Homo sapiens: one gene and its partners. The protein of the gene in region 2 interacts with the protein of the main gene of each other region in a pairwise test. Each region holds a gene or a part of one and is shown on either strand. Other genes may lie near its edges.

Region 1 (4,418 bases), on a different chromosome or scaffold from region 2:
TGTAAGGTGGTACCCTGGATGGGGTCTTGGGACAGAAAAGGTATGTGAGGTGAAAGCATAGCAAAACCTCACTTCAACAGGAAATACAACCCAAAAAAATAATTGGCCGGGCATGGTGGCTTGCGCCTGGGGTCCCAGCGACTCGGGAGGTTGAGCGGGACGGACGGCTTGAGCTCAGGCCTTCCAAACAAGCCTGGGCACATAGCGAAACCTCGTCTCTCCAAAAAAATCCGAAAATTATCCCGATGTGGTGGCGCTCACCTGTAGTCCAGCTACTCCGGAGGCCGAGACAGGAGAATCACTTGAACTGATTCTCCTATCTCAGCCCCCCCCCCCCCCCCGCCCCACCCCAAGTAGCCGCAGCGAGCCGAGATGGCACCGCTGCACTCCAGCCTGGGCTACAGAGCGAGAACCCGTCTCTGTAAAAGACACAAGGATGCAAACCAACCAAATAACCCACTGTGGGATCCCCTCCAGCGTCCTGCTGTGTTTCCCGCTGTCTTCCTCCACCCGTGAGTGCACCCACAGCAATAAAAGCCAGCGGTGTGGGTCTCACACGCATCTCCAGCCCCGTCGCCATCGCGCTGAGCTCGACTCTTTTTACAAAAGGCCACTTGACATCCTCACTTGGCAGTTCAAAAGCCCCTTCAACCAGATGTGCGCAAGCCAAGCTCCGCAACTTCCCGTTCAGAGCAGGTTCTCGGTCCACCTCTGCCTGAATGAACCGGCGGGCTACCAAGGCCGCAGTCTCTTCCTCAAGGGCTGTCCACACTGGGTCTCGCTTTCTCTTGGAAATTTCTCTCCCACCAGGGAACTTTCTCCTCCTCTACCTCCCTGAGTCTCAGTCTAACAGCACCCTGCGCCCAACCCCGAGGGCTGCAATAGCCTTCTTGCCTCTCCTGACTTATTCTGCGGACCCTGGGTTGGCGCTCCTTCACAGCCAGGCTGGTCGTTTCTGAAATGTTAACCCGCTGCCGGACACCGTTCCACGGTTTTCCGCTGCCTTGGAACAAGACCAGCTCCTGCGCGGACCCTGCCTCCACCTCGCACCACCTCCGGGCCTGGACTTGGCCTCCCGTCCATTCCCAGAATGTGCCGGGCTCCCTTCCAGTCCGGGCCTCAGCACACTCTCTTCACTCCCCTTCCTCCCTCCCTGCCTCTCCCAACCCGGTTCAGGATGACTAATTTCAAACGTTATGTTCCAGATTTCAGCCCAGATATCCCCGCTTTGGATGCTTTCCTTGACCATGCTCAGATCTAAGCTAATCGCATCTTCCTGTCAGCCGCTTTCAGGGCACCACACCTCATTGTGCTGACACTCAGAGGTCATTATGCAATTTTTTTTCCTCGATGATTAGATTAATCAATCAACCACGGACGTCTAGAAATGGCGGCATCTCAGAAGGGCCCCCATTTGACTGGCAGGGGACTGGCCCAATGCGCCTCGCAAGCCCAGCCAGGCCCGCCCCAGCCGGCCCCCCTCTGACGACGCCTGTCCCTTACGCGACTGCCTTGCTGCCATATAAGAGGGACGGCGCTCGGCCTCCAGCAGTCGGCTTTCTGCTGGGCTCGGAGCCAGAACCTGCTGCGTGCTCCCTCCAGACTCCCTGGCTGCGGGTGGACTACCTCAGAGCTACAGCGGTGAACCTGTGGACACCTCCGACTCCTCGGGCCTCTCTTCGTCGAAGAGTCTCCTAATTTTCAGATCTCCGGAGCCAGCTGTGGGAAGATCAGGTGTGTGTCTGGGGGTCCCGGAGGCGTGGACGGATCTCGGGTGGGTGCAGTTGGGGACAGAATCCTCATTCCCCTAGAAAGGCCACGGCCATCCCCCTGCCTTGTCACCTCTGTCTTCCTAAATCCGTTCTTGCTCTCTTGTTTTTCTCCCCAGCCCCTCCCGCCGATTGCTCATGGAGGAACCAAGGCCTTCGAAGCGACTTCGCTCCATGGCCCCTAATCAAGGTACATCAAACGCCTGCCACTCCTCTCTTTTTAATTTCGTCTGTTCCCCAATTCTTCCCCAATGGTTGACACTCAAACTCAATCAAGCATTCTCTGTTTCACCTTCTCCTAGCCTGCCTCAACCTGGGCTGCTTGTTGGAAGTCAGCTCCCGGGTTCCACATCATCTGGGAAATTCCTTTCCCTCTTCCGAACCGTAATCCCATTTCCCAAATCTGAGATTTGCTGTTGTTGTCGCTGTTTCCTTCTGTTTAGTTTTGTATTACTGTTTCTCCGTAGCAGAGCGAGTCCTCACGCTACGTCTTGATCTATGATAAACCGGTACTTCCACCTTGTTCTTTCCCGGAGGAGTTGGAATTTTCCGGCTGTTGCCACGTTGTTCTCCAAAACATTTCCCTTCATACGCTGAGTGTCCTAAATCTTTTAATCTTGTCTAGTTTGACAGATGCATAACAATAAAGCATCCACTGAAAGGAAATTCTTTAACATCTTGCTTGTCTGAAACATCTTCATTCTCCCCTCCCAGATTCTTCAGCGAAACTTCGGTTGGACAGGAAATTTTAGGTGGGAAATTCATTTCCCTTGAAATTTCGAAGACATTTTCTGTTATGTTCTAGACTGAACTGCTGCTTTTGAGATGTCTGACTTTTGAGACATGTGGAATCCTAGCCCTTTCCATGTGACTTTTCCTTTCTCTGTCTCCCGCTCTCTAGAATCTGTTAGAATCTTCTCTTTTTCCTCAGCACTCTGAAATTTTCTGGTGAAATGTCTCAGCCACAGCATACCTCTAATTCTCTTATATTTCATCCTTCTTTCCATCATTTTAGGTTTTTGCTTTGTTCTGTGGGAGACCTTCTCAACTTCATTCTCCAACTTCCGTGGAGAGTTTTGTTTCTTCTCTCACAATTTTAACTTCAGAAATCCCTCTTTTCTCTGAGTATTTATTTGTAAAAGTATCCTATAACTGCTTGACGGGTGAAGTTCCTTCTGTCTCTCTCTGCTCACGCTCCGCTTCTCTTTTAGCCTCAGGTGGGCCTCCTCCAGAGCCAGGCTGCTGTGTTGCGGACCCTGAAGGCTCCGTGGAAGCAGATGGGCCCGCACAGCCAGCCCAACCCGCAAAACCCATCGCTTACGTGAAACCCTTCAGACGGCAGCCCCCAGCTCGCCCAGAGTCACCCCCTCCTGCAGAGAGAGGCCGGCGCCGGGGAGGAAGCCGGCGGCCAGGGCGAGGCCGTGGCAGAAGGGCTGGGCCCCGCGGGGACGCTGGCCAGAGACAGGGGGCAGAAGGCTTGATGGCACCGGACGTGCACATCCAACTGGACCACCATGGAGAGCCAGGCCACCAGGGGGAACCGGAAATCACGGAGACCGCAGCCTTCTCCCTTTCTGAAACAGGTCCTCCGCCTGGAACTGTGCAGGAAGGCCCTGGCCCCGACGTGGCGCAACCTGAGCTGGGGTTTCAGGAGCCGCCCGCTGCTCCTGGGCCTCAGGCTGTTGACTGGCAACCCGTCTTGACCCTCTATCCCTGCATCGGGTTTAGGGCTCTGGGTGACTCAGCGGTTTTACAAGTCATTCAAACCCCCCAGGGCACCTACGTGCAAGGGGTCCCAGTGTTCCTCACCGACATTGCGTATTGACCACTATCTGCCACCCACGTTGTTCCCAGCCTCCCTTCCTTCCACCTGGACGTTCCCCCCAGCCCCACTTCTGCTCCACTCCTCCCCCGACTGGACCTGAAGCCTGAGCTTCCCCTGAACTTGGAGTACGCAACTTACAACATGCAAGCTGCCAAACACCCTTTCTGTACAAGGCGATTGGAATGGAACTGTCATGTACAGTGAAAGTACACGTCACGTTTTTCAGCCAAGAAGAAGCCAACCCAGACAACCTGGAAGAAGTGGGATGCAACAAGGATCACTAAGCATGGAAATTAGGAAACTGTATTCTTAAGTCCAGAGAAGTACGATTCTGGAAAAAGGATTGATGACCTAGAATTAAAATTCCAGAAGACACTCATATAGACATGTGGGACATGCGAAAACTCAGAAGGAGCTAGAAGTTACTAAAGTGCTTCTCTAGTGCCTGGAGACGATAGACTGGCTGAATATAAGAGCAATAAAAATCTAGACTGACACATTTTTAAGTCTCAACGTGGGTACCCTTTGGGAACCACTAAATGAATTGGAATAGAAGGTAAAATTTCAAACAGATTGAGGAAAAAGGGGATCAAAGGACATGTGACGAATCAGACAAAAGGTGTTGGGGTGGGGGGGGGGGCGGTTAACGGAAGCAAGGAGAGTGCATGACTCACTGGAACCGCTAAACCAGGAATCAGTAATTTGACGGCAGTGTCCTTGGCTTCCTCCTGGCTTTAATGGGAATATTTTGAATGTTTCACCATTAACCAAGATGTTGGCTGTAGGTGTCTCTTAGATGTTTAAGTTGAGTTAGTTCCCATCTT
Region 2 (3,644 bases):
TTGTAGATGATGAAAGCTCAGAGAGCAAAGGAACTTTCGCAGAATCAATCTTCTAGCAGAACCTGGACTGGAACCTGGGTCTCCTCACCCCTCACAGCCAGGGCTCCTTGCCAGACCATGCTGGAGCTGCTCCTTTGATTAAAAGAGTCACAGGCTGCAGTCACCCCTGGCTCTTCCTGAATCTCCCCCTCACCCAAAGCTCCTCTACCTTCACACACCAAGACTCCTGGTCCCTGAGTCTCTGGCTGGGAGGTGAATATAGGGGCAGGTAGCATTCTTGTGACCTTATTCTGAAATTTGCTGTCCTAGTTAGCAGCTTCCTGAGGGGAGAGGGACACAAGAAGCTTTTAGAGATGGTTTCAACCCTCTGGGTGCTAATTGGGAATGAGACTCTCCCTAGGTTGAGACTGGGGACAGCTATTCTGGGTCTGCAAGATGAGGTGTGGGGGTGGAGAGGCCAGAGGGGGGATCAGGAAGTTTCCCCAAATAGCCTGGCCTGAAGCCACACGTGGGAGCCAAGCCCCAAGAAGGTGGCCTAGATGAAGGGGTGGAGGGGGAGCTGTCCATTTGGCACATGGGCCTGACCCTTGGGAAGCTGGGCATAGGGCAAAAATCAGGAGCAGGACTGGTTTTGTATCCTCTTTTCTTTTTTGTTTGAGATGAAGTCTCGCTCTGCCACCCAGGCTGGAGTACAGTGGTGCGATAACAGCTCACCGCAGCCTCCGCCTCCCAGGCCCAAGCAATCCTCCCACCCCAGCCCTCAGTCCAGAGCCTCACGAATAGCTGGGACTACAGGCACACACCTGGATAATTTTGTTACATTTTCTGTAGAGACAGGGGTCTCCCTCTGTTGCCCAGATTGGTTTCAAACTCCTGGGCTCAAGCGATCCTCCTGCCTCAGCCTCCCAAAGTGCTAGGATTACAGGCTCATGCCTGTAATGCCACCATGCGCAGCCAGTCTTCTCTTTGTTCTCCCACTGAAATGGGCTTCCTTGGAACTTGATGTCATAAGTGGGTGTGTCTCTACCCTGTCCCAGCCCCTACCCCCAAGCCCCAGCCTACTGTCCTAGCTCTCATCCCAGTGACACTGATTTACTCATTCATTTAACCAATATTTATGGAGCACCTACTATGTGTTATACTTGCTAGCCTCTGCCCTGGGAATTCAGGAGGAACAAGACAGGGTTCCAAGAGGGAACAAGATAGGTTCTCTTTTTTTTGAGACGGAGTCTCGCTCTGTCGCCCAGGCTGGAGTGCAGTGGCAGGATCTCGGCTCACTGCAAGCTCCGCCTTCCGGGTTCACGCCATTCTCCTGCCTCAGCCTCCCGAGTAGCTGGGACTACAGGTGCCCACCACTGTGCCCAGCTAATTTTTTGTATTTTTAGTAGAGATGGGGTTTCACCATGGTCTCGATCTCCTGACCTCGTGATCCGCCCGCCTCTGCTTCCCAAAGTGCTGGGATTACAGGCGTGAGCCACCGTGCCCAGCCTAAGATAGGTTCTCAAGAGGGAATAAGAGGCTGGGTGTGGTGGCTCACGTCTGTAATCCCAGCACTTTGGGAGACCAAGGTGGGTGGATCACTTGGGGTCAGGAGTTCGAGACCAGCCTGGCCAACATGGTGAAAACCCATCACTAATTAAAAATACAAAAATTAGTGCGTGATGGCGCAAGCCTGTAATCCCAGCTACTCGGGAGGCTGAAGCAGGAGAATCGCTTGAACCTGGGAGGTGGAGGTTGCAGTGAGCCGAGATCGCGCAATTGCACTCCAGCCTGGGCGACAGAACGAGACTCCATCTCAAAAAAAAAAAAAAAAAAAAAAAAAAAGGGAATAAGAGGAAATGGGAAGGAAGGAAAACTACCCTAGAGAGAGCAATGCAGGAAGGCGTCTTTCAGAGGTGATAGTTAAATATCAGCCATGAGAAGGAGGAGGGAGGGGTCAGAAGGAAAAGAGCACTCAAGGCAGAGAGAACAGGCTTTGAGAAAGCTCCCAAGTGAGGGGAAACTCGCTGTGCTCCAGGGACAGAAAGAGCCCAGTGTGGCTGGAAGGTGGGGAGTTATAGGAAACAGATCAGAGGGACACAGGATATTTTAACCACTACGGATATTTTGACCCGAAGGATGTTTTGAATGCAAACATTTTAAACCAAAACATACTAACCCTGAAAATGTTTTAAGAAGGTGTTCTCCAGCTTGAACTCTATTCATCCAACTTAATTCTTTGATCAGATTTTTGTTTTTCCCCTGTAGTACAGTTAAACAAATGTCCATGTTTTTCATTCTTTTGTAATTTTACTGAAACTGTTTTCATCGGCATCGATTCCGTACACATTCTGCTGCTGAGATTGGAGGCATCCATCAGTGTGGGGGCTGCAGGCTCTTGACACGAGTTTCTGCCATTGTGTGATTGACTGGGTAACCCCATTCCATTTTGGAAGATTTAAATTAAAACCAAAAAAAAAGATTCGTGGTCAAGATTTGATTCTTTTGTGCATTTTAGTCAATAATGAGTTTTCTTATATCCATTTCTAGCCATCCTCAGTGTTACTTCTACCCGTAATATTTTTAGGTGGAGAGTTGTATTTATATCTCAGTTGATCTGTGGGAGGAATCAGGTGGAAGGGGTGGACTGGGAGAGAAGGGCTTGGGGGAGGGGAAAGGCCCGGATCTTCCAGGCTGGGGCAAGCATTCTCCTAAAGCAAAGGGTGAAGCCTTTAGAGCTTTTATCCCAGAGCATGACTTGATCAGATTTGCCTTTATTTTTATTTATTTATTTATTTATTTATTTAGAGACAGGGTCTTATTCTGTCCCCTAGGCTGGAGTGTGGTGGTGTGATCACGGCTCACTGCAGCCTCGACCTCCCAGGTTCAAGCTATCCTCCCACCTCAGCCTCCTGAGTAGCTGGGACTATAGGTGTGCACCACCACACCCAGCTAATTTTTGTATTTTTTGTAGAGATGGAGTTGCCCAGGCTGGAGAGTTGCCCTTTTAATAGTCTCCCTCTGGCTGTGTGAAGATGGGACTGGGAGGGAGAGGAAGTGGGGAAGTAGAGGCAGGGAGACCAGTGAGGTGGCTGTTCTGCCAATCCAGGTGGTAAAGAGAAGTGAACCGGGCCAGGCATGGTGATGCGTGTGCCTGTAGTCCCAGTGTGTTGAGAGGCCAAGGCGGGAGGATCGCTTGAGGCCAGGAGGTCGAGGGTGCAGTGAGCTGTGATCGCACCACTGCACTCCAGCCTGGGTGACGGGTTACAGATAGAGTATGGGGTAAAAAAGGGCAGGGTAATCTCTGTCCCACTCCCCAGGATCCCACCGCAGCCCTCCTGCAACATGCAGAATGCCCTTGCTGCCATTCCCACACCCTTAGCTCCCTGCTTCTGGTATTTGAGGCAGCTTGGAGCTCTTCCCCCCAACACCCAGGCTCTGGCCACTTGGAGTTTGTACAGAGTCGAGACCAAGAACTGGGGCGTTTCCCTTGGAGGTTTCTCCTTCTTTGCACTGAGGGAGAGTCAGGGATGCCCTGCTGAGGTTGGGGTGGGGGATGGAAGGGATGGGAATGGCCCTGGGATCCACCTACCTCGAGTCCCGTGGCTGGAGCCGCCCAGGCGGCCGCAGACCTGGCGGTGAAACAGACCCAGACACAGGGCGCT
Region 3 (4,145 bases), on a different chromosome or scaffold from region 2:
TGAACTGATTCTCCTATCTCAGCCCGCCCCGCCCCCCCCCCCCCCCCCCCCAAGTAGCCGCAGCGAGCCGAGATGGCACCGCTGCACTCCAGCCTGGGCTACAGAGCGAGAACCCGTCTCTGTAAAAGACACAAGGATGCAAACCAACCAAATAACCCACTGTGGGATCCCCTCCAGCGTCCTGCTGTGTTTCCCGCTGTCTTCCTCCACCCGTGAGTGCACCCACAGCAATAAAAGCCAGCGGTGTGGGTCTCACACGCATCTCCAGCCCCGTCGCCATCGCGCTGAGCTCGACTCTTTTTACAAAAGGCCACTTGACATCCTCACTTGGCAGTTCAAAAGCCCCTTCAACCAGATGTGCGCAAGCCAAGCTCCGCAACTTCCCGTTCAGAGCAGGTTCTCGGTCCACCTCTGCCTGAATGAACCGGCGGGCTACCAAGGCCGCAGTCTCTTCCTCAAGGGCTGTCCACACTGGGTCTCGCTTTCTCTTGGAAATTTCTCTCCCACCAGGGAACTTTCTCCTCCTCTACCTCCCTGAGTCTCAGTCTAACAGCACCCTGCGCCCAACCCCGAGGGCTGCAATAGCCTTCTTGCCTCTCCTGACTTATTCTGCGGACCCTGGGTTGGCGCTCCTTCACAGCCAGGCTGGTCGTTTCTGAAATGTTAACCCGCTGCCGGACACCGTTCCACGGTTTTCCGCTGCCTTGGAACAAGACCAGCTCCTGCGCGGACCCTGCCTCCACCTCGCACCACCTCCGGGCCTGGACTTGGCCTCCCGTCCATTCCCAGAATGTGCCGGGCTCCCTTCCAGTCCGGGCCTCAGCACACTCTCTTCACTCCCCTTCCTCCCTCCCTGCCTCTCCCAACCCGGTTCAGGATGACTAATTTCAAACGTTATGTTCCAGATTTCAGCCCAGATATCCCCGCTTTGGATGCTTTCCTTGACCATGCTCAGATCTAAGCTAATCGCATCTTCCTGTCAGCCGCTTTCAGGGCACCACACCTCATTGTGCTGACACTCAGAGGTCATTATGCAATTTTTTTTCCTCGATGATTAGATTAATCAATCAACCACGGACGTCTAGAAATGGCGGCATCTCAGAAGGGCCCCCATTTGACTGGCAGGGGACTGGCCCAATGCGCCTCGCAAGCCCAGCCAGGCCCGCCCCAGCCGGCCCCCCTCTGACGACGCCTGTCCCTTACGCGACTGCCTTGCTGCCATATAAGAGGGACGGCGCTCGGCCTCCAGCAGTCGGCTTTCTGCTGGGCTCGGAGCCAGAACCTGCTGCGTGCTCCCTCCAGACTCCCTGGCTGCGGGTGGACTACCTCAGAGCTACAGCGGTGAACCTGTGGACACCTCCGACTCCTCGGGCCTCTCTTCGTCGAAGAGTCTCCTAATTTTCAGATCTCCGGAGCCAGCTGTGGGAAGATCAGGTGTGTGTCTGGGGGTCCCGGAGGCGTGGACGGATCTCGGGTGGGTGCAGTTGGGGACAGAATCCTCATTCCCCTAGAAAGGCCACGGCCATCCCCCTGCCTTGTCACCTCTGTCTTCCTAAATCCGTTCTTGCTCTCTTGTTTTTCTCCCCAGCCCCTCCCGCCGATTGCTCATGGAGGAACCAAGGCCTTCGAAGCGACTTCGCTCCATGGCCCCTAATCAAGGTACATCAAACGCCTGCCACTCCTCTCTTTTTAATTTCGTCTGTTCCCCAATTCTTCCCCAATGGTTGACACTCAAACTCAATCAAGCATTCTCTGTTTCACCTTCTCCTAGCCTGCCTCAACCTGGGCTGCTTGTTGGAAGTCAGCTCCCGGGTTCCACATCATCTGGGAAATTCCTTTCCCTCTTCCGAACCGTAATCCCATTTCCCAAATCTGAGATTTGCTGTTGTTGTCGCTGTTTCCTTCTGTTTAGTTTTGTATTACTGTTTCTCCGTAGCAGAGCGAGTCCTCACGCTACGTCTTGATCTATGATAAACCGGTACTTCCACCTTGTTCTTTCCCGGAGGAGTTGGAATTTTCCGGCTGTTGCCACGTTGTTCTCCAAAACTTTTCCCTTCATACGCTGAGTGTCCTAAATCTTTTAATCTTGTCTAGTTTGACAGATGCATAACAATAAAGCATCCACTGAAAGGAAATTCTTTAACATCTTGCTTGTCTGAAACATCTTCATTCTCCCCTCCCAGATTCTTCAGCGAAACTTCGGTTGGACAGGAAATTTTAGGTGGGAAATTCATTTCCCTTGAAATTTCGAAGACATTTTCTGTTATGTTCTAGACTGAACTGCTGCTTTTGAGATGTCTGACTTTTGAGACATGTGGAATCCTAGCCCTTTCCATGTGACTTTTCCTTTCTCTGTCTCCCGCTCTCTAGAATCTGTTAGAATCTTCTCTTTTTCCTCAGCACTCTGAAATTTTCTGGTGAAATGTCTCAGCCACAGCATACCTCTAATTCTCTTATATTTCATCCTTCTTTCCATCATTTTAGGTTTTTGCTTTGTTCTGTGGGAGACCTTCTCAACTTCATTCTCCAACTTCCGTGGAGAGTTTTGTTTCTTCTCTCACAATTTTAACTTCAGAAATCCCTCTTTTCTCTGAGTATTTATTTGTAAAAGTATCCTATAACTGCTTGACGGGTGAAGTTCCTTCTGTCTCTCTCTGCTCACGCTCCGCTTCTCTTTTAGCCTCAGGTGGGCCTCCTCCAGAGCCAGGCTGCTGTGTTGCGGACCCTGAAGGCTCCGTGGAAGCAGATGGGCCCGCACAGCCAGCCCAACCCGCAAAACCCATCGCTTACGTGAAACCCTTCAGACGGCAGCCCCCAGCTCGCCCAGAGTCACCCCCTCCTGCAGAGAGAGGCCGGCGCCGGGGAGGAAGCCGGCGGCCAGGGCGAGGCCGTGGCAGAAGGGCTGGGCCCCGCGGGGACGCTGGCCAGAGACAGGGGGCAGAAGGCTTGATGGCACCGGACGTGCACATCCAACTGGACCACCATGGAGAGCCAGGCCACCAGGGGGAACCGGAAATCACGGAGACCGCAGCCTTCTCCCTTTCTGAAACAGGTCCTCCGCCTGGAACTGTGCAGGAAGGCCCTGGCCCCGACGTGGCGCAACCTGAGCTGGGGTTTCAGGAGCCGCCCGCTGCTCCTGGGCCTCAGGCTGTTGACTGGCAACCCGTCTTGACCCTCTATCCCTGCATCGGGTTTAGGGCTCTGGGTGACTCAGCGGTTTTACAAGTCATTCAAACCCCCCAGGGCACCTACGTGCAAGGGGTCCCAGTGTTCCTCACCGACATTGCGTATTGACCACTATCTGCCACCCACGTTGTTCCCAGCCTCCCTTCCTTCCACCTGGACGTTCCCCCCAGCCCCACTTCTGCTCCACTCCTCCCCCGACTGGACCTGAAGCCTGAGCTTCCCCTGAACTTGGAGTACGCAACTTACAACATGCAAGCTGCCAAACACCCTTTCTGTACAAGGCGATTGGAATGGAACTGTCATGTACAGTGAAAGTACACGTCACGTTTTTCAGCCAAGAAGAAGCCAACCCAGACAACCTGGAAGAAGTGGGATGCAACAAGGATCACTAAGCATGGAAATTAGGAAACTGTATTCTTAAGTCCAGAGAAGTACGATTCTGGAAAAAGGATTGATGACCTAGAATTAAAATTCCAGAAGACACTCATATAGACATGTGGGACATGCGAAAACTCAGAAGGAGCTAGAAGTTACTAAAGTGCTTCTCTAGTGCCTGGAGACGATAGACTGGCTGAATATAAGAGCAATAAAAATCTAGACTGACACATTTTTAAGTCTCAACGTGGGTACCCTTTGGGAACCACTAAATGAATTGGAATAGAAGGTAAAATTTCAAACAGATTGAGGAAAAAGGGGATCAAAGGACATGTGACGAATCAGACAAAAGGTGTTGGGGTGGGGGGGGGGGCGGTTAACGGAAGCAAGGAGAGTGCATGACTCACTGGAACCGCTAAACCAGGAATCAGTAATTTGACGGCAGTGTCCTTGGCTTCCTCCTGGCTTTAATGGGAATATTTTGAATGTTTCACCATTAACCAAGATGTTGGCTGTAGGTGTCTCTTAGATGTTTAAGTTGAGTTAGTTCCCATCTTTTCAGAGTTTGATAAATGTTGTATTAT

What was found.
Region 1: the proteins of ZNF385C (region 2) and PRR20B interact in a two-hybrid assay, tested with the Homo sapiens proteins (one large-scale study listed by BioGRID).
Region 3: the proteins of ZNF385C (region 2) and PRR20C interact in a two-hybrid assay, tested with the Homo sapiens proteins (one large-scale study listed by BioGRID).

The regions. Positions count from the first base shown.
Region 1 is NC_000013.11:57,145,968-57,150,385, forward strand, and holds the start of PRR20B (proline-rich protein 20B), read left to right. Parts: upstream 1-1,520; 5' UTR 1,521-1,734; intron 1,735-1,888; 5' UTR 1,889-1,907; coding exon 1,908-1,959; intron 1,960-2,980; coding exon 2,981-3,594; 3' UTR 3,595-4,418.
Region 2 is NC_000017.11:42,088,458-42,092,101, reverse strand, and holds part of ZNF385C (zinc finger protein 385C), read left to right. Parts: intron 1-3,644.
Region 3 is NC_000013.11:57,152,841-57,156,985, forward strand, and holds the start of PRR20C (proline-rich protein 20C), read left to right. Parts: upstream 1-1,220; 5' UTR 1,221-1,434; intron 1,435-1,588; 5' UTR 1,589-1,607; coding exon 1,608-1,659; intron 1,660-2,680; coding exon 2,681-3,294; 3' UTR 3,295-4,145.